6 separate regions of the Homo sapiens genome follow, and regions 2, 3, 4, 5 and 6 are each linked to region 1. Evidence: fine-mapped expression QTL. A gene starts in region 1. Each other region holds a variant in brackets. All regions are shown on one strand. Distances are between the middles of the regions.

Region 1 (4,089 bases):
CCATAAAAACAATCAAACCCTTTTTCTCCCTACATCTAAACTAATAAGTCTACAGACGCAGAAAAGGAGGACGAAGTTCTCTTATTTACAGAAAAAAAAAAAAGGAGTTGAGTGCAAAGTGCCTACAGTACTTATTCTCTCAATGACTAACATTATGACTATCTGCCCATAAAAAGATCTGCATAAAAAATGCTGCAGTGTGTCTATCACCAAACAATGTATCATTTATACTGCAAAAGTTGTAGAAGGAGGGTAGGCAGCTTATAAATACTCACCAGCAGACAGTGGGCAAAGTCAGGACCTCCCACTAGGCCAGTGAAATTTCCCAGCTGCTCAGCAAGAGCTAATAGTACCTCATCTTCATCATAAATTGTATCTGGAAGTGACAACAACAGGACTCATCAACATGGATAGCTCTCCCACAGCTGGACACTGACACAAAACTAGGAACAGATTCACTATGCGACCAGGAAGGTGACCCAGTCAAAATCCTAACAGCATTTTCTTTCTTCTCAACCGTCTTCCTGTATCTGCTTTGCACAACGAATTAGAAATTCATACTCCCGTATCAATTACTTTCAATAGCTAAATGGTTGATGTTTGAATATATCTAGCCACAACTAACAATATACTCTGTTCTGTTTCTTTTGCACAAAAAACACCTGGCTCATTTTAATGTGGGTAATAAACTCTAAAAAAGTCAGTGTTGAAAGCTACTGGAAAATGGAATGTCCCTACCTTTCTTTAAACAAAGATTCACATACCTGTAAGAAATGGCAACAATTCACTTCGGGTCCTTTCTACTCCAAGTGCTAGGGCAATTGTTGATAACTTCTTAATACTGTTGAGTCGGAGCTTCAGAAAAGAAAGTAGAAAGAAGAACAATGTAAAGAAACGGCTGAATTTAGATCAAAAGACAAAAGGTGCTAACAGGTGAAATTATGACACAGGGGTAAGAATGAAGATAACCTTTCATTTAGATTTTACTGTTAAGGAAGCTCATAAGGACTTCCAAAAAGAAGTGTAACTCGGCCTCACTAGCCGGCGGAGGATTTCCCAGGAGAAACACTCAGAAGGGACCGGAAGAGAAATGAAGGAAAGACAATACAACACCTAGGAAGTAAGATAATTTTAAAAAGAGAGCACTTTGGCAGTGGTGAAGCAGGTGAAACGGTTGAATACAACACCTGTGGTTTCAAAGAAAAGTTCCCACAGAGCGGATACACTACTCGTCCAGATTAATCGGCCATCCCACCCCCGCTTTCTACCCAACAAGCCGAGCCAGTTCCAAGCCGAGATGAAGGGATCCAGGGGCACTTCAAAGGGCTTCTGGGCATCCTGCGCCCCTCAGCCGCTCCAGCCCCGTCTCGGCCTGGCACCGCGCTTCTCCTGCTCCCTCGCCCAAGAGACGCGGCCACCTCACGGCCCGGATGGGGCGCCCAGGCGGGAAGCGGGTTCCCCGACAACCGCCCGGGAAGGGCAAGGCTCCGGGCGGACGCCTCAGGGGGTCCGAAGCAAGGTTACTAGAGAGGTACCCGGGAGGGTCGGGGCGTGTCACCACAGCCCCTCGCGGAGCATTCCCCGCCTCCCCTTCAAGTTTCTGCTACGAGTCCGACTCATTCAGTACCTCGGCCACCCCCACCGCGACGCAGGCCTTCCCCCTTCTCTACCACGCGACCAGCCGGTCTCGCCTCGGGTCCCCGGCCTCAGTCCAGTACCTGCACGTCTTCATTGCGGAGCTCGTCGATTAAAACCGCGATCGGGTATAGCGAATCATCTCCATCTCCACCCGCTGCTCCTGGGCCGGTCCCGAGCTCTGATGCGCCCGCCATGTTCTTTCTCCTCCTGCTGCTGGTCACCGCCTCCCGCCCCGCGCCCAGGCCCCGCCCCGCGCCCAGGCAGTAGGGACGAAGGCCGCCACGCTGGTTTAGCCGAAGTTGGGGAGCCGCGTTTCTGTCCCGATGATTAAGGCTCCCTTCTGACCCCCACTGCAGGAGTTGTAGGTCTGAACTCAAGAAGACGGGTGGGCTAAGAAAGCGAATGGAACCCCTGCGTCCTTTCCCCAGCCGAAAGAAACAGGGACAGGGATTCATCCAGCTCGTTGTAGTCTGAAGGAGCCAGGAACCTACCTGAATGATCTGCGCTGTGCCCTCTTAAGACTCAGGCGGACCAAAGAGAGTGCCCGAGGCCAGGAGGAAAAAGGCTTTAGCACCTCCCCTGACTTCTTCCTGGCCCTGAGCCACTGGATCTCCAGCCCTAATTTCTCCGCTCAGACTCAAACTTCCACAGAACCCCTCCACCTCTTCCCGCGGCTCTTTCTCCAGAATGGTATCTGGCTCCTGCTCCGTAAGACAAATAACGCGGGCGGTGAGAGAAAATGAACAGTGCTGTCCAAACTCCCCAGTCAATATTTTTTCCACGCAAGCTGTTAAAAACATGCTGCTCTCTTGTTTTTGTGTTTCTTTTCAGTTTGGTACTGGAATGGTGCCTTCTGTTGTATTTTCTTCCTCCCATTTTTTAGCTCTTTAGCATGCTAGAAGTACAACAATGAAGCAAAACTAGGACAAGCTTTAATCCTTCCAAATTGGGTGGGGTGGCTACTTTCTTGAGCAAGAAAACCCAAACTGGCCTCCCTAGACCTCCAAGAGTCCTCAGAGGCAGCAAGGGGAAGAGGTGGAGGTCTGGGAGCTCGTTCTTACAAACCTGAATGGAAAGTTTTCACTTACCCCTGTCAGGGTAGCACAGAATAATTAGAATGTTTTGTTTGTTTTAGACTGGAATTTAAGCAGCTTGGAGTGATAACTACATATGGTGATCACAAGCTCCGAAATGGTAATTCTATGTGCCTGATTAATAAAACTATAAATGCAGTGTAGGAGACAAACTTTTTTAAAACATGGGATTCTGAGGCCGAGGCGGGCGGATCACTTGAGGCCAGGAGTTCGAGACCAGCCTGGCCAACTTGGTGAAACCCTGTCTCCACTAAAAAATACAAAAATTAGCTGGGCTGGTGACGGGAGCCTGTAGTCCCAGCTACTCGGGAGGCTGACATGAGAATCGCTTGAGCCCGGGAGGCAGAGGTTGCAGTGAGCCAGGATCGCACCACTGTACTCCAATCTGGGCGGCAGAGTGAGACCCCGTCTCTAAAATAAATAAATAAATAAATAGCGTTCTTGGAAGTAAGCACAATAGAGCCTTTGAATGAATGAATGAAATAATGAATAAATAAATAAATAAATAAATAAATAAATAAATAAATAAATGGGGTTCTTGGAAGTAAGCACAATAGCTAGAGCCTTTGATAGTAATGAAAGTTTGGGAACCAGCAGACCTGAACAGTTTTTCTCAAATTATGTCTGCGAATGTATTCTCTAGGGTTTTAATTTTATTTTCATTTTCATATTTTTTAGATTTGTATAAGCATATTCTGAATTATTTGGGTGACCACCTTACAACCAAGTATTGCCACACAATTTCAGCACCCACATTTACATGTGTGTTTTAGTGCTGCTTTTATTGTTCTGGGATAATGAGAAAAGAACAGAGGTGGTTTTAAAATGACAATGATACTTTCATGCACAAAATGAAAGCCAAATGCATCATGAGATTGCACTATTTGGTAGTTGTAACAGAAAAATGGTGAGAAAATTAAGATATCAGGAGTCACTTGGTGGCATAGGCATGTTGAACACAAAAGAAGCTGAGCTATAGCAGGCAACACCATAGTAACAATACGACGGATGACAGTTTTAGCAAAATACATCATTTGTCACGTTAAATTACTATAATATTTTTAATTGAATAGTATTCATTTTGTGGTTTCATTTGTATTTAATTTGTAAATTTGTTGTGGTTTTTTTTTAGCTGTGTAAGAACTAGAAATAAAAGCACATTTTTCCTACTTTATATTCGTAAATTTAAATAACCACAGCATAATAAAAACAATTTAGCTAAACATGGTAACGCGTGCCTGTCTTCCCAGTTACTTGGGAGGCTGAGGTGGGAGGATCACTTGAGCCTAGGGGTTCATGACCATCCTAGACAACACAGCAAGACCCCCATCTCTAAAATAATAATAATAATGACTTA
Region 2 (4,089 bases), 32 kb after region 1:
TGTACTATATGCCTCTTCTGTAAGAAATCACCTTTAAAAAGAAAAGTTTCAAAGTTTATCCAATTTGGATGGAGAACGGCATTGCAAGATAAGTAGTGGCTTTAAAGCATGTCCATACTTCTTTGACACTCCTCCCATCAACAGGGGAAGTCTACTTCTTTTCCCCTTGAGCATGAGCTATTCAACTGGCTTGCTGCCAACAAACAGAATGAGGAGGAAGTGATACTGTGTGACTTCCAAGGCTAGGTCATAAAAAATTATGCAGGTCTTGAGATGCTTACTCTTGGAAGTCAGCCACCATGCTATAAGGAAGCCCAAGCCACATAAAGAAGACACATAGGTGTTCTGGCTGACAGCCCCAGCTGAGATCTAGCCAAGAGCCAGCATCCAGACATATGAGTGAGAAAGCCACTCAGCTGCCTCCAGCCCCAGCCACTATCTGATGGCTAATGCATTACAGATCCTGAGTAAGAACTGGCCAGTTGAGCCCATCAACTCCCAGAACCACGAGAAGAAACAATAATCAACTATTGTTGTTTTACGCCACTAAGTATGGATGACTGTTACACAGCAATAGCTGGAACAAATGCTTCTGGCTAATTTGCCCTTTACAGTAATCACTCCAGTCGTCTTATCTTCCATAGAGAAATAGTTCTGCTTATGCTGGAGCTAAGGGCTGGCTCCCTTCAACCAGATTACTCTCTACAACATAGGACAAAAATGAATATAAGTGCAATGGACTCTGTAGGCCTCAGAGCTGCTGGGTTCACCTCTTAGAGGGTAAAAGGAGAGCCATGGTCTTAGTAAAGTCCCCAGAACAGCTAAAGTTCAGTGGCCACTGAGAATCCTACGTAGGCACTGAAAGAACATAATAAGCGTATATGATATCAGCACAGTCCCCAACTTGCCCTTTGACTAGAAAAGGCCCCTCTCCTGCCATACCAGCTAAAGGTTCAACATCTAACTCCTTATTTGTATTTACTCTTCATCTATAATTGCCTGGCCAACATGGTGAAACCCTGTCTCTACAAAAAACACAAAAATCAGTTAGGTGTGGTAGTCCGTGCCTGCAGTCCCACCTACTTGGGAGACTGAGATGGGAGGATGGCTTGAGTCCAGGAGGTGGAGGTTGCAGTGAACAGAGATTGTGTCACTGCACTCTAGCCTGGGCAACAGAGCGAGACCCTGTCTTAAAAAGAAAAAAATAGAGAAAAATAAAATCTCACAATCCCCAAACTAAAGGTGAAAGCAGAGCAAGCAAGACAAAAGGGACATATAATGAAGGAGGACAGTGGGTGGAAAGTGGCTGTGCAAAGCACTGACAGGGCCTCCCAACTTGTTTCCGAAGCTACAAACAGGCCCTGTTGCTCATGAAGCCAACTCCAATATCCTGGAGAGGCATTTCCCACCAGACTCCCACAACCAAACATCTCTCAGCACACTTAGATAGGCACCCACCACTGAGCTGGTGATTTATTGCAACACTCTCCCTTCACTCCTCTCTGGGGACTCTCAGAGTAGGCATTACATCTGCCCACTTGTCAGCTATTTCATTCATGTAACAATTATATCATGCTTCAAAGAAAAAAAAATCTTTTATTTTAGAAAGTATGTAATATGAGATGGCCACAGAGTAACAAATGTGTCTGGTCTAAAAAGTGATATTGTCAAATAGTTTAGACTCCGCATCCTAAGAGTTTGATAAACCTTTATAAAATTAGCCAGAGAGACATGGCAAACTCAGGGAATGGAAGTTGCAGTTCTGGTACTAGTTGTGTGAGCAGGGACTAGAACGTGTTGATTAAGATCTTATGCCTGGATCTTCTCTCAAACTAATGGGGTCTGGGGTTTGTAGGCCTCTAATAAGGCAAAGAAGCAGCCAATTAGGAAAAGAAGTGAACGAACATCTGGGCTGTCATTCTCCCAAATGGTCTAACACCACTTAGCCTTATTTAGTAAGTACTTCTCCATCACTCCAACAATAAGGATGTTGCTTATCTTGCAACAATTTCAACAGGCTTCTTCATACATTCACAGACATGTGGAATTCCTAAATTTGCCCCAATCACAAAATTGTCCCAATCATCTTTAGGTTGCAACTCCCTGAAGTGGAAACTCCAATTACATATAACTCACAGTATAATTTTTTTTTGTATTGAGACAGTCTCGCTCTGTCACCAGGCTGGAATGCAGTGGTGCGATCTCGGCTCACTGCAACCTCCACCTCCCGGGTTCAAGTGATTCTCCTGCTTCAGCCTCCCGAGTAGCTGGGACTACAGGCATGCACCACCACGCCCAGCTAATTTTTGTATTTTTAGTAGAGA[T/C]GGGGTTTCACTATGGCCAGGATGGTCTCAATCTCTTCACCTATGATCCGCTCGCCTTGGCCTCCCAAAGTCCTGGGATTACAGGCATGAGCCACCGTGCCCGGCTGATTCCTTTTTTTTTTTTTTTTTAAACAAACAAACAAACATGCTGGTACTGCCTTCAAACTACCCTGATTGCTTCTCTTTCAGACAGCTGAGGCCCAATCTAGGCCACAATAATAAGAATTGTCAGCAAGTTAAATCAAATAAGTAAACCATGGGCAAATCCACATAGTAAATGGACTATGGAACAAAGAAAATATATCTATGTATCTTCTTTCTCCCATCCTGCTTTTTGGAACAAGTCTCTTTGCTCGGGTCACATTAAAGCAAGATGACCATATATTTCAATTTATCCAGGACAGGACCCCTTTTACTTTCAAAAGACTTCTGATGTGGATGATACATTATAGATTACCTTACATAAAAGCAAATTCAAACCAGCCAAAGAGGTAAATAGAACTTTTTGATGCTGACTAATGGGCCCCTCATCCAACAGGCATTTTATATCTTTCCACTTTTACTCATGATTGCTTCTTGAATTAAATAAGTGGTTCTTCCCTCCTTACCACCAGTACTTATTTAATCCTACTTTTCTTCAGCTCAAGCACCCCCTCCTTCTGGAAGCCTTCTAAGTGTACTCTAATCTCCACAGGTCCCTCCTTTCTTTAAAGTTCTAGCACATGATTTGGTGCCTCTATGGTCTTAACACTATTTTCAAGTTGTTTTCATATGTGTAGGTCTTCCTGCAAAAGTTGTAAGTTATTCAAGGGAAAAGCCTGTGTCTAATCACTTCCTTTATGTGCCTTAAAGAATCTAACTCTAGGCCGGGTGTGGTGGCTCACACCTGTAATCCCAGCACTTTGGGAGGCTGAGGCAGGCGGATCATGAGGTCAGGAGATTGAGACCATCCTGGCTAACATGGTAAAACCCTGTCTCTACTAAAAAATACAAAAAATCAGCCAGGCATGGTGGCACGCGCCTGTAGTCCCAGCTACTCGGGAGGCTGAGGCAGGAGAATCACTTGAACCCAGGAGGCAGAGGTTGCAGTGAGCCAAGGTCATGCCACTGCACTCCAGCCTGGGTGACAGAGCGAGACTCCGTCTCAAAAAATAAAAAATAAAATAAAATAAAAAAGAATCTAACTCTATAACAAGGGCATACCAGATATTCAGTAAATACTTTCTGATCTCCAAACCTGCCTAACCAGCTGACTTAAGAACATACCAGGAAAACTCCAGGTGTCTCCCCACTGCTCACTCCTCTTGCAACACCCTGTACTTTCCTCTTACAACACATAACACATTTTGTAATTACCTATTGATTTGTGTGGCTATTTGTTTAAGGTCAGCCTCACCATTGTATCGTAAGGTCCAAGAGGACAGCGACCTGGTATGTACTGTTATTTATCCCTGTCTACCTATGATTTATCATAGTGCCTGGCAATGTTCAATAAATATTTGCTAACTGGAGATGAGTGATGGGTGGACAGACAGACAATGGAAGAAAGAACAAATGATCTGAGAAAAACCATAAAAAAAGCAGGGTTAGATTTTAGGAACTTAAACATTTGAGAAATTAACCTACTTACATTTCTAAACAAATCATGTGGCTATGTGTCATAGGCCTATTAAAACCTTTTTCTTTTCTCAGAAAGAGCTAGAGAATAGTGAGGTGTGCAGCCCCATCTTATCTAGGGTCTAAGACGTAAATGACCATTATATAT
Region 3 (4,089 bases), 69 kb after region 1:
AATACCTACCATGAAAAAATATGCAGCAAAAACATTATTTTTGCAATATAGTTATAATGGTACAGTACAAACCACAGAACCTTTACACTTATTCACTCCTAATTCTTGATTAGCCCAGAGGTAAAGAAAATAGTGAAATAAAAAAAGTCATACAACTTTCCTCGTTTCCATGCACAATAGAAACGGGACAGGCTGGAGCACTTAGCATTGAAGCCAAAGGCTGGCTAAAACCTGCCACCCAGAGCTAAAGGTCCATGCCTAATTTTCATGATTCTGCCACCACAGATAAGCAAAAAAATCCTCGCATTCAAAGGGCTGGACACAGCTGCTACCCAGCAGACATAAATCACTTGTTTTTCCCTGCTTTTATCAGCCAGCATTTTGGTGACTCCTACTGGCATCCTGAAAAATCATCACCTTTCGGGTAAAGCTCATATAGAGTCATTTAATCAAATTTAACACTGTCTGACAGCAGAGAATATGGAAATATGATCTAACTAAGACAACCAGTGATAAAAGCCTAAGAAATGTGCAAAAGGCCACTGTAGATTTTCTAGCCAGCTTTCTCTCAACATCATTACCACAATGACGATGAATATTCATTATCCACTGAGAAAGCATGTAAAAGTGAACTACTGGGTACATGACACCGTCCTAGACACTATGGTGAACACAAAAGAAACAAAGTGCAGTCATTCTCTTCATGGCATTCACATATTTGATGTGGAAAGATATGATATCAGAAATATTTAACTAAGACCAAGAAAATTAAATGGCTAAATGAACTGCACAGATAAATACTGAAGACACTTAAAGGAAGGTCTGCTCAATATGGACTTAAATAGTTCACTTCAAAGAGGAAGATAATTTTGATAGTGTGAGAAGAGACACAAGGGTAGTTCAGGCATAGTCACCAATATAAGCGAAGTCACTGGGGTGGAAAACGCAATGATGAGTCTGGAGACACTGGAATAAAATTACAAGGATGGGAAACAATAAAAAGAAGGAAGGGGAGAGATTGGGTTTCTTTACCTGGAATCTGTCTAATATACCATTATCAGATTAAGAACACTTGTGCAAGCATAAGAACATTGCATTTTTGCTACAGAGAGATATAATATCAAATATCATAATTCCAAAGTAGGTGCCATTTTACAGACAGAAACTGAAATTAAACAGAGAAGCTAACTAATTTGCCCAAGGTTATCAAGTTTAGCAACAGAGCTGAGGTTTGAATGCAGGCCTACTCAACTCCAAAGTCCACGCTCTTTTTTTTACTACTCCATTTTTACTACCTCTTCCTAAAGCAAAGCTCCGATAACATCACTCTGAATTCATACTGTCCCCCTATGACAGTGTATTTTCCCACCCTTTGACTGTCCAGCTTCTCTAGAATGATGCCCTGCACTCAGGAGACTCATATCTGCAGATAAAATTAAAATGACCTGTAACAGTCTACCCTGCCCAAGGGTATTTCCATTGTAACAGGAATCAGAGCCTTAAATTAAAAGAATAAAGCTCTAATACAATCCATGTGGCAGAAACGCCTGTCTTACAAGGGAACAGCTCAAGGCTGTGTCTTTAAGTGTCCATTTTCATAGCTTATAGTTACAGCTCATACAATAAGAATCTCACTCATAAACCCTGAGGGTCTCCATGGAACTCTAACCAGCCCCAATCTGGGAGACAAAAGACCAGATGTGGCTGCAGGTTTGCTTCAGAAGAGAATTGGAAGTCTTGCTATTTTACATTTTAAGCATATGACATAAGAAAATGTAAATTAAATATAGCTGACATTTAAACTGTTACATATTTCTTTAACGGACAGGTTATCAGGTTATCAAAAAATGTGCTTTCTAATAATTCTAGACAACGATCTTACACTGTCTTTGTGACCCAAAAGGAGCATTATCTTTATTACTTCTTACCTTTTTCATTATCAAAGATTTCACAGGTATCAAATGTCAAAAGTGTCATCTTTCAAAGGAACTGAAGTAAAATTCGCATGG[G/T]ATCTCAGAATGTGTAAAGACAAGTAGGGAGAAGATCATGGCCCTGACAGAGGCTGCTCCCTGGCATTCAGTATGGAAACAGTCTTTACTGTTCATTTGTTAAAACCGGAATATACTAATAGCTAGGTCAAAGGTCCACCTGATAACTTGAAAGTTCCTCATTAAGGATTTTAATAGGCCAAGGAATGATATGAGTTTCAGAATAATGGTTCAAACTTCTACCGTAAGAAAACTTTCAGCCTACCCAAAACCTTCAAAATTAAATTATACATTTTACATAGAAAATAAAGAGGTTAATTTGAAAATAAAAGTGATACTGTTTACTGTTTTTCAACAAAAGCTGTTATACCCCTCATCCTAAAAAATATCCGGTTTTTTTCTGAGACAGGGTCTCACTCTGTTGCCCAGGCTGGAGTGCAGTAGCGGAATCATGGCCTACTGCAGCCTTGAACTCCGAGGCTCAAGTGATCCTCCTGCCTCAGCCTTCTGAAAGGCTGGGATTACAGGCATAAGCCACCACACCTGGCTTATTTTTTAATTTTTTGTAGAAATGTGATCTTGCTATGTTGCCCAGGCTGGTCTCGAACTTCTGAATTCAAGCAATTATCCCGCCCGTCTCCCAAAGTGCTGGGATTACAGGTGTGAGCCACAGCACCCGGCCTTAAAAAAATTGCTTTCTAAGAAATTCTCATTTTATCAATGCTCTAATATACACACCAACAGACTTTTAGGCATAGAATTCTTTTCAGAGAAGCAAGAAGAGAATGTAGCCCTTACATATCTGGATGGCTCTTCTAGATTCTGGTCATTCATGTCAGTAGGAACAATCCGGGTGGCCAGAGGTCCTTCTGCAAAAGGTTTTGGTAACTGACCTCTGAACTCTGATGGAATGAACTGAAGCTGCCAACTGTCAGAAACACAAGGAGAATAAGAAAAACACAGGGGGATAATATTGCTAAATGTACTTGAAACAAACAAGCCAGGAAAATCATGTGAAAAACATTTCTCTTGAAGAAAAAATATTTCTGCTAAAACCTCAACCAGGGAGCACAGAGGCAGAGGTCACAAGTCAGTCCAAAATCATTGAGAAATTTATAATTAGATGTCTCTTGACCCATTTCACCAACTGTTAGCAGTGAAATTCACAACCAAATGGTCATATCATCAAAAAACCAGAGAAGTGCCAATGCTTATTGTCAATTACTATGTGGGCAGAGAGACTTATCAAATAAAGCAAATTATCAGGTGTAGAGAAAAAGAATGAAATGTAATATATGGCACTGAGAACACACTATGGGAGAAATACTTTGTTCCGGAGTAACCCTCAAACATATCTTTATCTATAAAACTATTTCAAACGTAAAAGGCAAAGGCTAAAGTCAACACTTAAAAAACAAGTTTTAATTTAATCATTAATGACTGACACAGGGTCTTTATGAAGCATAAGAAACTACTACCCAGTAAAGCCAAGCTACTGAAGCCATTTCTCAAATGGAGCAACATGACTCATCTTAACCAGATTTCCCTTTAACCTACACAGGACTCTTCTCTGGCCAAATGAAGCAAACTACAAAGAACTTTAGGGCCTATGCTCTCAGAACCACAGAAAGCATAAAGGAAACTGGTATAGACATTTTAACCACAGCCTTCCCCAGTGTCCACATAATGGTGGAGAACTTTCACTACTGTTGGGTCAAGAATGTCTTCTCTCTTCTAGCTGGAGTTTCTAGACCACTTTTAGAAGAGGATTAACATCAGATCATTATAGAAATGTAAATATGAATCCCCACGAAGAGCCACTGGCAAAAGCCTAGGACCCAGGGCATTTTCAGAAGTCCCCAGACACCTGCAGTTATGGGCAGTGCAGAATGTCTACCTAGACCCAGCCCTCAGCCTAATAAGCCTAATGAACACAGGAGGCAGGTACACAGTACACAGGCCCCACAGCTCTCCGACGTGGTAGATAATTCAATAACTCTCTGTGAAAACTCCAAAAGAAAACAAAAATTAGAAGACACTGATATAGAACTGCTCTATTTACTCCTTCATTTAAAACCCTAGGAATTAAAGGACAACTTAC
Region 4 (4,089 bases), 120 kb before region 1:
AAATCACAAAATATTCCCAGTTGCTAGTCCATCAGTTCCTTTTGTTCTTGTGTGACTGTTAATTAATTTTCTTTCATTTCCAGGAATTGATGTAGGAGAGAAAACTAGCTGGTTCCCAGTCTGCTATCTTGAAACAGGCAGAATAATCTCTTTTGCCCTGCCTATGCACAATCATTTTAAGATAGATTTGCTTTTCATTAAATATTGGGGGTTCTTAAAATGTAAATATCCAGCTTTGTTCTTAAAATGTAAACATAAAATAACATTTAATGTTTAAATGTTAAACATTAAATAGTATAACATTTTCTCTTTGTTTCTTTATCCCATTATGAACCATTTATTTGGCCCTTCATTCAAGAAATAATGACTGGGTTTCCTGTCTTGGTATTTGAGGAGGAGGGTACTATCTAAGGGAGAATTAAAAACACTTAGAACTATGCTATACTATGCTATAAGTGCTACGGGAAACTATGAGAAAAGTTCTTTAGAAAGTCAGAAGAAACAGGCAATTTTTTTTTTTTTTTTTTTTTTTTTTTTTTGAGATGGAGTCTCACTTTGTAGCCCAGGCTTGAGTGCAGTGGCGCGATCTCAGCTCACTGCAAGCTCCGCCTCCCGGGTTCACGCCATTCTTCTGCCTCAGCCTTCCGAGTAGCTGGGACTACAGGCCCCCGCTACCACCCTCGGCTAATTTTTTGTATTTTTAGTAGAGACGGGGTTTCACCATGTTAGACAGGATGGTCTGCAAATATAGTATTTGTAGGCATAAAGTTACAAACTCGGTGCCAGTATAGCATCTGGTAAAGGCCTCAGTGAACTAATGGCGAAATTTACCTCCTTTTTAGTCCTCACCCTCTTTAACTTCACTGCAGCAACTTGACTCTTAGCATGCATTCTCTTTTTTTCTTGGAAATTGCCTTTTGTGACTGTTTTCTTTTCCTACTTTTAAGACCATTGTCTATCTCATTTTCCTGTCCTGTAAGAGAAGGAGTTCTATGCATTCCCTCACTGAGCTCTGTATTCCCAAGGCTTCAGGCCTCTAGGCAGATGAACCTCAAATCCATAACCTGAGCCTTTACGTTTCCCTAAATTCCAGGTCCCTACTTACTGACTTGTTGAAAAGAAAATTACAAACTGGGCACATTACCTTCTTCTCCTCCTAAATAAGCTCTTCCCATATTCAAAATTCTGTTAGCAGTTTGACCATTCATTCTTCTTCTGACCCTGAATTACCTTGGACTCATTCTTTTTTATATCTAATTAGTTGCTTAGTCTTACAGATTTTTCTTTGAAATATCTTATTTTCTGCTTTTGTTTACTTTATATTTTCTGCTTTTGTTTACTTTATATTTTCATTGCCTTAACCCTAATTTAGTCCCTCATTAATTCATTTTCAGCTCATGATTAGGATCCCAAGTGGTTTCTTGCCTCTTTATTTCCCTTATCAGTCTTTCCTGTGCACAGATTTTCACTTTATTTCTTAAAAATCTTCTGCAGTTCCTCCTTGCCTACCAACTTCTTTGGCACTTAAGACCTTTTATAGTGTAGACCTAGCTCTTTTTTCCAATTTCATTTCCTGTTATTCCCTATGTGTACCGTATGAGAGACAATGGGCTTTGGAATCACAGACTGGGATTCTTGTCCCAGCTCAGCCATTATTTAACTGTGTGCATAAGTAACTTTGGAAGAGTCGCTTACCTTTTCTGAGTCTCAGGTTCTCATTTGTAAAATAGTTGATGTATGAATAAGGTAAACTAAAATTTCTGGTACTACAGTACCAGACTTAGTAAATGTTAATCTCTTCTTTCACTTTCCTCAGGTCAGTTTGGTTGCCCTGTTCTTGGAATGCTCCATGTTTTCCTACACTTTTGCCATCACCCTTCTGAACGGTTTTTCACTCCCAGCACTTCTGACACCAAATGCGGAGGGTGGAGGG[G/A]CTCCCTCCACACCAACCAATTTTCCAGTACCAACTGAGTGTCCTAGAATTCATTTCAATTCTGATACTAACTACGCAGAGCTAGCCTCAGATGTGATAGGTTTAAGGGCTCATTCCCACAAGACTGCCCTCACATCAGAGGCCAGTTGCAAGTAGCAGGTTTCCAGGTTACCCACACCTTCCGTCCCACTTGACTACAAAGTTGGGAATTCCCATGACTCTCTACTCAGGTTCTATAATTTGCTAGCACGTCTCACAGAACCTAGGAAAACAGTTTACTTACATGCACTGGTTTATTATAAAGAATACAACTCAGAAACAGCCAAACGGAAGAAATACATAGAGCAAGGTATAGGGGGAGGGCAGAGCTTCCATGCCTCTGGGATGCCACCCTCCCAGCACCTCAGTGTGTTCAACAACTTGGAACCTCTCCAAAACCTGTCTGTGGGGTATTTATGGAGGTCTCATTACATAGGCATGATTGAGTACATCATTGGCCTTTGATGATTAACTCAATCTCCAACCCCCATCCCCTCTCTAGATTCCCAGAGGTGGAACTGAAGGTACCAACCCGCTAGTCACATGGTTGGTTCCTCTAGCAACCAGTGTCCATCCTGAAGTGTCTGGGGACTCACCACTAGTCACCTCATTAGCATAAACTCTAGTGTGGTTGAAAGGGGCTTGTTACAAGTAACAAAAGATATTCCTGTCACTTAGGAATACCATAGGTTTTAGAAGCTCTCTGTTTGGAAGTGGAGACAAAGACCAAATATATATTCTTATTGTTGCAACTCTATAATTCCCTCACCCTTATTTTCACCAGGCAAAATTTCTTCGTTTTTTTTATAGCTCAGTTCAGATTTCACTTTATTTGTGAAACCTTCTCATCTGTCCGCTAGTTAAAAGAGGCCTTTCTTTCATTCTCATGGTTTTGTCTATTGTAAAGTACTATTATTATTGGTTTATGTATCTTTCTTCAACCCACTGTGATTTTCTTGAGGGCAGGATCTATTTCTTATTCATTTACTATATCCTCAACCCCTAGTAAAGTGCTTTTGCACATCCTAGGCATTAAGTAACTAAATGATGAGTAGGATTTGTTTTGCTTTAAAAATTTATTATATTTTAGGGAAGGGAACAACACACACCAGGGCCTGTTGGAAGGTTGGGGGCGAGGGGAGGGAGAGTATCAGGACAAATAGCTAATGCATGCAGGGCTTAAAACCTAGATGATGGGTTGATAAATGCAGCAAACCACCATGGCACACGTATACCTATGTAACAAACCTGTACGTTCTGCCATTGTATCCCAGAACTTAAAAAAAAAAAAGTTAATTATATTTGAAAATGTAGAGTAGACAGGCAATCATTGCAAATGTATAGGCTGGGCACGGTGGCTCACGCCTGTAATCCCAACATTTTGGGAGGCCGAGACTGGCAGATCACCTGAGGTTAAGAGTTCAAGACCAGCCTGGCCAACATGGTGAAACCCCGTCTCTACTAAAAATACAAAAATTAGCTGGGCATGGTGGTGCGCGCCTGTACTCCCAGCTACTCAGGAGGCTGAGAGGCAGGAAAATCCCTTGGACCTGGGAGGCAGAGGTTGCAGTGAGCCAAGATCACACCATTGCACTCAAGCCTGGGTGACAAAAAAAAAAAAAAGAACTGTTCATTGGGCGTTTTAGAATTAGCTAGGCATGGTGCTGTGCAGCTGTAGCCCCAGCTACTCATGAGGCTTAGGTGGGAGGATCACTTGAGCCCAGGAGGTCGAGGCTACAGTGAGCTGTGATTGTGCCACTGCACTCCAGTTGGGGTGACAGAGTGGGACCCTATCTCAAAAAAAAGAAAGAAAGAAAAGAGGCCAGGCGTGGTGGCTAACACCTGTAATCCCAGCATTTTGGAAGGCTGAGGCGAGCGGATCACGAGGTCAGGAGTCCGAGAACAGCCTGGCCAACATAGTGAAACCCCATCTCTACTAAAAATACAAAAAAAATTAGCCGGGCATGGTGACTTGTGCCAGTAGTCCCAGCTACTTGGGAGGCTGAGGCAGGAGAATCACTTGAACCCAGGAGGCGGAGGTTGTGGTGAGCCGAGATCACGCCACTGCACTCCAGCCTGGCGACAGAGCGAGACTCCATCTCAAAAAAAAAAAAAAA
Region 5 (4,089 bases), 41 kb before region 1:
GGTTTAAGAGACCCAACACAATTGGTTCCCATTCCCACTTGTTTTTGCTGACATGAGAGAGACTTAAGTAGAAGACTGAAGCTAGTGACTGGTATTGCATTTACATTAAAATTGCCATCACTTGAGAAGATTTAAAATTCTTTCCTTTGATATTACCAATTTAGGCTCCAGCAGAAGCGACTCTTTCTTCAGAAGCAGTCTCAACTGCAGGCCTATTTTAATCAGATGCAGATAGCAGAGAGCTCCTACCCACAGCCAAGTCAGCAGCTGCCCCTTCCCCGCCAGGAGACTCCACCGCCTTCTCAGCAGGCCCCACCGTTCAGCCTGACCCAGCCCCTGAGCCCCGTCCTGGAGCCTTCCTCCGAGCAGATGCAATACAGCCCTTTCCTCAGCCAGTACCAAGAGATGCAGCTTCAGCCCCTGCCCTCCACTTCCGGTCCCCGGGCTGCTCCTCCTCTGCCCACGCAGCTACAGCAGCAGCAGCCGCCACCGCCACCACCCCCTCCACCACCACGACAGCCAGGAGCTGCCCCAGCCCCCTTACAGTTCTCCTATCAGACTTGTGAGCTGCCAAGCGCTGCTTCCCCTGCGCCAGACTATCCCACTCCCTGTCAGTATCCTGTGGATGGAGCCCAGCAGAGCGACCTAACGGGGCCAGACTGTCCCAGAAGCCCAGGACTGCAAGAGGCCCCCTCCAGCTACGACCCACTAGCCCTCTCTGAGCTACCTGGACTCTTTGATTGTGAAATGCTAGACGCTGTGGATCCACAACACAACGGGTATGTCCTGGTGAATTAGTCTCAGCACAGGAATTGAGGTGGGTCAGGTGAAGGAAGAGTGTATGTTCCTATTTTTATTCCAGCCTTTTAAATTTAAAGCTTATTTTCTTGCCCTCTCCCTAACGGGGAGAAATCGAGCCACCCAACTGGAATCAGAGGGTCTGGCTGGGGTGGATGTTGCTTCCTCCTGGTTCTGCCCCACCACAAAGTTTTCTGTGGCAAGTGCTGGAACATAGTTGTAGGCTGAGGCTCCTGCCCTTCGGTCGAGTGGAGCAAGCTCTCGAGGGCAGCACTGACAAATGTGTTCCTAAGAAGACATTCAGACCCAGGTGTTATGCAGGATTACATCCGTTTATTATCAAGGGCAACCTTGGTGAAAGCAGAAAGGGTGTGTGCTATTGCATATATATGGGGGAAAAGGCAATATATTTTTCACTGAAGCTGAGCAACCACATATTGCTACAAGGCAAATCAAGAAGACATCAGGAAATCAGATGCACAGGAAATAAAGGAAAGCTGTGCTTTGTCATTGAATCCTAAGTTCTTAGCTGCTGATGCAAGTTGTCCCCCAAGGCCATCACAAAGCAGTGGGGCATGAGCTGTGTTTCAGGGGCCACTAAATAACAGCTGGTACTGACCCCAGAAACCGCCTTCATCTCCATTCGGAAGCAGGTGACACACCCCTTCAGAAGGTGCCCTGGGTTGCCGAGTGTCAGAATATACTCAGGACTCCAGAGGTGTCACACGTGGAACTGACAGGAGACCCGCCACCGTGGAGGCAGGGGGCAAGAAACTCAAGAACGCATCAAGAGCACCAGCCCTGGGCCAGGGAAGACAGGCTCTTCCTGCAGTTTCTCGTGGACACTGCTGGCTTGCGGGCAGTCGGTCTCCAGGGTACCTGTTGTCTCTTTTCC[G/A]ATGTAATAACTACTTTGACCTTACACTATATGTTGCTAGTAGTTTATTGAGCTTTGTATATTTGGACAGTTTCATATAGGGCTTAGAGATTTTAAGGACATGATAAATGAACTTTTCTGTCCCATGTGAAGTGGTAGTGCGGTGCCTTTCCCCCAGATCATGCTTTAATTCTTTCTTTTCTGTAGAAACCAACAGTTTCCATTTATGTCAATGCTAAATCCAAAGTCACTTCAGAGTTTGTTTTCCACCATGTGGGAATCAGCATTCTTAATTTCGTTAAAGTTTTGACTTGTAATGAAATGTTCAAGTATTACAGCAATATTCAAAGAAAGAACCACAGATGTGTTAACCATTTAAGCAGATCATCTGCCAAACATTATATTACTAATAAAACTTAACCAACACTTACAATTCAGTCATCAAAGTAAGTAAAAATTAGATGCTACAGCTAGCTAACTGTATCCCTAGAAATGATGAATAATTTGCCATTTGGACAGTTAACATCCAGGTGTTACAAAGTCAGTGTTAATTCTAAAGATGATCATTTCTGCCCTTTAGAATGGCTTGTCCCATCAGCAGATGAATGTGTTAAGCACAAAGCATCTTCCTTAAAGCACAAAGAGAGGGACTAACTGATGCTGCATCTAGAAAACACCTTTAAGTTGCCTTTCCTCTTTGTAGTTAGCGTTCAGGCAGGTGACGTGTGGAAAGTCTAGGGGGTTCCATTCTGGCCATGCGAGCCCAGCTCCTACCAACGTCGGTAACTTGAGCAGTCCCTGTTGCTGGCCAGAGACTGCCTGGTCGCCAGCGCTCACCATGGGTGCCAGGATGCTTCGCAGAGGCACTGTGCTCACGGTTGGACTTGGTGTCAGTGGGAAAGGGCAGTGTGGGGACTGTCATTTTTGTGATTTAATAACACACAGTGAAAATCCAGGAAGAATGAATTAAGCTTCTTCTGGGAGTTGTTTATTCCTGCTCGTGCTTAAGATTGATGATTTCGTGAAATAAAGAACATCATTTCATTTAAGAGATCATTTCATTAAGATCTCTAATCTGTTTTGAGTCTTTACAAAATAGCCAGTTATAAAATGGGGCTTGATTTGTTTAGACTGAAGGAAGACGTTTTCCCAAAATATACTACAGAAGTGCTACAATATTTGCGATATTAAAATGCCTGCAGATTGAAAATGGGGGCCACTCATTTCAGAACTGCAGGAATGGTGTAGTTACAGATCGACATAAACTCCTGCCCCCCAACAATGCCATGAGCTGCTTAGCCCAGGAGACCTGGGAGCTATGGCAGGACGGTTAGGCCAGCCGATGAGGGACTGCAGAGAGGCTACTGGAAGGTTAAGGACCCAGAGAGAAATCGAGAGGTGCCCTACAGCAGCCAGGCCTATCAGGATCCGTCACACACGGCAGCGGCGTGGACACCGGCCTGATGCAGAGCGTGACCCCTCCTGCTGGGACCTGTGTTGTAAGCTCCTATTTGCTTATCTTGTTTATTTCAAGCAGAAATCAATAAATTCCATAACCCTCTGTATTGACTGCAATGTAAGCTGCTGAGGAGACTGGTTCTGTTGGTCAGTCAGGTGTTTGCTCAGCCCTGTCTGATCACCTGTGCTGCTCTGTCCCTAACTAGTGACCCATGGAAGCTTCCAAGCAGTTTTCTCTTCATCACTACTAACAAACAAAACACTAAGAAGGCTTAGTATCGCTCTTTTTCTGCGGGGCTACTCTGAAGTACTGACTTGCTTTCCAGTCTGATTCACGTTAGCAGTGTGTACACTACTGTATCATCATCAGCTTCATCACCCTGTAAACCAGGCTCCTCTGAAGAGACTTTGGTGAGATGAACGTGAGGTAAAAATTTCGTTCGGCAAAAAGTGCAATATGTGTGGTACTTTATTTTTTATGTTCTTTTTTTAAATCTGGGGTATTAGTCTGTGCTTTGGGAGAAATGCACTAGCTCTGCAATTCCCAGCTGGGCAAGTGTGTCTCTAGTATCTCCACGCAACTGATACACTGGTCCCTGTAAGGCAAACAGCATGTTAGCCCGACAGGAAGAGGGGGCCCACTTTCACATTCCCGGTGACACTGACCGTCCCCAGCTGCCCCCTCGCCACCTCTGCCTGCACTGCCTTCTGTCACCGTGGGAAAAGGAGGCTGATGGTTCTCTACACCATCCACCTTGAGAATCCCTGCGTGGGAGAGCATCAGGGCCCACCAGGGGAGTGGGGATGGGGCTCAGGGGCTGTTCATGCCCATCTGAGCAAACCCCTTCTCTCTTCCATCCACTTTTGCCTCCTAGGAAAGAAAAAGTCAGTGGCCCTTTCTTCCTCAGATATCAAGAACTCCCAAGTGTTTAAACCGTATGCTGGAGTCAGTGGTTGGG
Region 6 (4,089 bases), 230 kb before region 1:
TGCTTCTTTTCACCATAACAGTTCTCTCAAGTTGTTTTGATAACCAAGAATTTCTAAGAAGAAAGTGTGTTAGATGTGACATTGACGTATTCTAACTGGGACAGAAGGAAGGTCTATAAATGATCTTGCCATAAAGGTCAGGCCTCATCCTGCCACAACCGCTGTTAGCTGTTACGTGCCGCAGCAGAGCTCCCCCATAGTCTCAGCTGATACTGAAATTCATCCCACTCCCCTCTCACCCCCAGCCTGTATTCAGGCTGTTTGTTTAGAATTGCAGTGGCTAGAGGCCTTAGAAGCATCACTGCTTTCTTGGCTGTTTTGAAAAGCAGAAAGAGTACGTAAGAAGCAGCAAGCTGGAACCAAAATCCAGAGGTCGTGGCCCAGATGGGGCTTCTGCTATGCTTCACAGCAGCATGGTGTGGCAGAAAAGGCAGAAAGTCAGATTCACCTTCTGCTACTTAGTGCCTTAATCTTTGGACAGATGGCTCACTCTATTGCTTGACTATATTTAAAAGCATTTTGTTTACGAAACCAAAGTGAAACACACCTACTTTGGGAGTTTACAAGAGGAAGCACACATTGAGGGCTAGGTTAGGAAAGCTTTTCCTGAGATAATAGTTTCATTCTTTCCTGCGGGGCGAGGGGCCAAAGCTGAACTCCCTAACTATGACCCCCACCTCCCAACCTGTTCCCTGCAAAAAACAGAATCATTTCCTTCCAGGGATCTGGGACATCTTTTGGCTTCTGGTAGAAGCCGCTTTCCTTTCAGTCGGGAGGGCTCCAACTCAGCCAAGTTCTTTGGATGCCATCCGCGCGGTGTCCCATAACTTTCCTGGCCGGTGGGCACACTGCCTGCGTGAGTGTTTGTTCTCTGCATCGACCATTCCCTGCTCAGGCGTCGCCCTTCGTGCTGGGACTGCGGCCTGCTGAGCCCCAGGTAGGAGTCCACGCATCGCCTCTCTCTCCAGGTGCACCCGCACAGCTGGCGAACTTGGCTAAGGTCAGCGGGAGAGGAGGGGTGAGATGTGGTGCTAGTTTTAGGCACACTGTGCTCGTTATCAGATTGCCTAGGGGCCCGACTGAAGTATTCCTCCGCCCAGCGCCTCGGGCAAACGCGGGATCTCCCAGGGAAGCTCGGAGGGGGACAGGGAGCTGGTTCCCCTCTGCGACTCGCCCCTCTCTGGCTGGCCGAGTGTCTGGCGCCAACCTCGCTGGAGGAGGCTGTCGGGGGCGGGCCAGCCAGCGGGGCTGCCCTCCTCGCAGTGACGTCCCAGGGGGCGGAGGGGCGACCGACTGACTCCGCGCCCTCCCCCCCGCCTCCCGTGCGGTCCGTCGGTGGCCTAGAGATGCTGCTGCCGCGGTTGCAGTTGTCGCGCACGCCTCTGCCCGCCAGCCCGCTCCACCGCCGTAGCGCCCGAGTGTCGGGGGGCGCACCCGAGTCGGGCCATGAGGCCGGGAACCGCGCTACAGGCCGTGCTGCTGGCCGTGCTGCTGGTGGGGCTGCGGGCCGCGACGGGTCGCCTGCTGAGTGGTGAGTGCGCGCGCTGGGGCGGGGGCTGGTGCCGGGGTGGGCTCACTGCACCCCAGCTGCTGCTGACCCTCTTCTGGGTCGCCACGTATGGGACTAGAAGGCCGTCCCATGCCCCACTCCCAGACGCAGCCCTTCGGAGTCTCTTGCGTTCTGGGGGCAGTCGCACGGCGTCTGAGACCCACGCCAGTTCCCGGAGCTGCGCAGTTCCCTGCGCGTCCTGGAACGCTCGAAGCCCGTTCCCAGTCCAGAGTTATGGGGGTGGGTTGGAGAATGTAGGAGAGGTGGGGCAGTGGGCAAACCTGCCCCAGTGGGTGCCCCTTCGGCCCGCTCCTTTACACGCATCGAATCAGTCCTTGGGACCACCCCCGCGGGGCAGGCTTGCCAGCTGGCCCCCGCCTACCGCCCGCTCCGGGAGGCGGCCGCAGAGACAGCGGGGTAGGGATGCTGGATCCCCGGTGCCGTGGGAACCCTGCCTGTTACTCCTCGTCTCTTCTGCGGGGTTGGATGGCTGGGTCGAGCGCCCGGTATGAGAGCGCTTAGAGATCGGGAAAGAACTCCAGTTAGTGTGGGACGAGCCCCACCTGACTCCGGGGAATGACTCTCTGCTTCCTTCCTCCTGTTGTGTCACTGCAGCCTCGGATTTGGACCTCAGAGGAGGTAAAGTGCTCTGGCTTCTGGCTTCTTTCAGTTGTTCTGCATGTCGGGGGGAGAACATCCGTGCCCTTTTCTCAGATCCTTTTTGCGGGTGCCAACAGCTTGACCAAACGGGACAGAGGAGACTGGGAACCTCCTCTACTCTGGCATCCTGGCTTGCGAAACTAATTTAAAGAATGTAAAGTTGGTTTCAGGATGGGGGCGGGGCGGCAAAAGAGGTGGGAAGCTGAATTGAGCTGCTTGGGTTAGGGCTGCGTGGGCTCTGTCCTTGGTCGCGGGGAACAGAAGGCCCTCCCACCCTTCGCCTTCCTGCAAATGAGAAGAGAAGGACACTTCCTGAAGGCAGGAGAACCAGATAGGCCCGCGGGC[C/G]TCCTTCCAGCTCTGACGGTCTCTGGCACTCACCCGCAGACTTCGGATGTGTGGCCAGGCTGGACCATACAGGAAACTCGCTTAAGGTGTTATGTTTCCCTTGACAATCCAACATGGAAAGTGGGGGTTGTCAGGAAATTCAACTCCAGCTTATGTTATGCCGGTGGCCAGGTTGGATAAGTTCCTGGGGGCTCATTTGCCCCTCCTCTGCTGCCCAATTTGGAGCCAGCTTTGAGGAATCGCAAAAGCGTGGCTGGCCCAGCCCCCTTCCCGGGGGTATCCCTGCCTCAGCCTCTCTGAATACCTTCTTGCAAGCAGGTCTGGCTTTTGAACCCTCCTAATGTGCTGCTGGACCAGTCTAATTAGAGTTTCTCTATTATCAGCAATAGCCAAATAATGACAGGAAAAGGGAGAAGATGTGGAACTCTTATAACTTGTTGCTCATTGAGAATTCCTTTATGAAAGTGATGAGAGAAGAAATAGAAAATGAAGACTCACTGGAGCTTTCTGGATAATCTGTATGTGCTCTTTCTCATTTAGCACTAATCATATAGTTCTATCTGTCTGTGGCCCCTTGCCCTATATGCTGGCCAGTGTTGGGAATTAATGAATGCTATCTGGCTCCCTGCGCAGCTGTAAAACAAGTTGGGAAAACAAGAACATTCCAGAAGTTCTGGGAGGAGGTTCCCAAACCAAAATATTTTACCCCCGGCACTGTGGCAGCAGTTCGCACCCACAGCCCACAATTTGGCTTTCTCTTTGCAGGGGGACTACTCCCCGTGTTGATACGTGGTTTTCACTTTGAACATTTGAATCCGGAAACATATGCTGTGTGCTCCTGTGGGTTAGGAAGTAGCTTTTGTTCCTGTATTCCCAGCACCTCGCACAGTGCCAGGCACAAAGTGTACACTCAATAAATGTTGATTGAATGAAAGGAGTGATGAGGCTAGTGTCTCCATTGCAGCAAGGCTTCAGTCACACAGACGCAAGCTAGAGCAGTGTGTACTGTGAGCGATTTGTTATTGGCTCCTCAGTAAAATCCCATCTGTTTGTCTGAGATGATCTTCAGCCCTTCAGGGGACAGACTGATAAGACACATTACATAGGCTCCCAGTAAAACATGAGCCTGGGGTGCAGCGGGGAGCTAGCAATTTAGTTCACTGGTACCAGCATGATTTTGTAATTAGATCTGGGCTCTAACTCCGGTGATGCTGATGATCACTGTGTGATCTTGGCCAAATTACTTAACTTCCCTGAGCTCCAGTTTTCTCATTTGTAAAATAAGCCATAAACAGTATCTGCATCAGGGGACTATTATGAGGGTTACATGAGATAAAGTATGTAAGTAAATGTTAAGCCCTTACCATAGTTTATGGCACATAGTAGGAGTTCAGTAAACCTTAACTGTTGTCTTTAGGTCAGAGGGCTGACTGTCAGTAGCAGAAAACCCCGTGGATCTGATGCTTTTAGCTTCTGCTTACACCAGAGACTGGGCAAATTCTCAGTCCTGCTGCACAGGCAGAGGGTTCCAGAAT

Direction of the effects. Alleles are on the strand shown, and positions count from the first base shown. SD is a standard deviation of normalised expression in the study named. Not every link is listed here.
With allele C in place of T in region 2, the expression in tibial nerve of the gene that starts at base 1,860 in region 1 is lower (small effect, 0.38 SD a copy in GTEx).

Evidence for each region. PIP is the estimated chance that this variant, and not a neighbour inherited with it, causes the effect.
Region 2: its variant is the best candidate, but not a certain one, in a credible set for the expression of PPP2R1B in tibial nerve (GTEx, PIP 0.57).
Region 3: its variant is the best candidate, but not a certain one, in a credible set for the expression of PPP2R1B in tibial nerve (GTEx, PIP 0.82).
Region 4: its variant is the best candidate, but not a certain one, in a credible set for the expression of PPP2R1B in nucleus accumbens (GTEx, PIP 0.72).
Region 5: its variant is the best candidate, but not a certain one, in a credible set for the expression of PPP2R1B in thyroid (GTEx, PIP 0.89).
Region 6: its variant is the best candidate, but not a certain one, in a credible set for the expression of PPP2R1B in ovary (GTEx, PIP 0.83).

The regions. Positions count from the first base shown.
Region 1 is chr11:111,764,530-111,768,618 of GRCh38, forward strand. It overlaps PPP2R1B (protein phosphatase 2 scaffold subunit Abeta), which reads right to left and starts at 1,860. Exons shown (of 15, transcript NM_002716.5): 1 at 1,719-1,860; 2 at 765-855; 3 at 276-376. The coding sequence starts at 1,832. It also overlaps a transcript of ALG9 not described here. RefSeq lists enhancers at 886-1,789, 1,676-1,855, 1,876-1,925.
Region 2 is chr11:111,797,011-111,801,099 of GRCh38, forward strand. All of the region lies in intron 14 of ALG9 (ALG9 alpha-1,2-mannosyltransferase), which reads right to left. LOC124902756 (a long non-coding RNA gene) reads left to right here. Exons shown (of 2, transcript XR_007062891.1): 2 at 1-4,089. Among named protein-coding and RNA genes, the nearest start is that of PPP2R1B, 33 kb to the left of the region's middle. RefSeq lists a silencer at 199-278. The variant T/C (reference allele first, on the strand shown) is at 2,325.
Region 3 is chr11:111,833,379-111,837,467 of GRCh38, forward strand. It overlaps ALG9 (ALG9 alpha-1,2-mannosyltransferase), which reads right to left. Exons shown (of 15, transcript NM_024740.2): 13 at 2,787-2,916. Among named protein-coding and RNA genes, the nearest start is that of ALG9, 36 kb to the right of the region's middle. The variant G/T (reference allele first, on the strand shown) is at 2,010.
Region 4 is chr11:111,640,214-111,644,302 of GRCh38, forward strand. All of the region lies in intron 3 of SIK2 (salt inducible kinase 2), which reads left to right. Among named protein-coding and RNA genes, the nearest start is that of SIK2, 40 kb to the left of the region's middle. The variant G/A (reference allele first, on the strand shown) is at 1,934.
Region 5 is chr11:111,723,332-111,727,420 of GRCh38, forward strand. SIK2 (salt inducible kinase 2) reads left to right here. Exons shown (of 15, transcript NM_015191.3): 15 at 165-4,089. The coding sequence ends at 798. It also overlaps a transcript of PPP2R1B not described here. Among named protein-coding and RNA genes, the nearest start is that of PPP2R1B, 41 kb to the right of the region's middle. RefSeq lists an enhancer at 1-511. The variant G/A (reference allele first, on the strand shown) is at 1,694.
Region 6 is chr11:111,539,398-111,543,486 of GRCh38, forward strand. LAYN (layilin) reads left to right here and starts at 1,323. Exons shown (of 7, transcript NM_178834.5): 1 at 1,323-1,531. The coding sequence starts at 1,447. RefSeq lists an enhancer at 426-1,105. The variant C/G (reference allele first, on the strand shown) is at 2,555.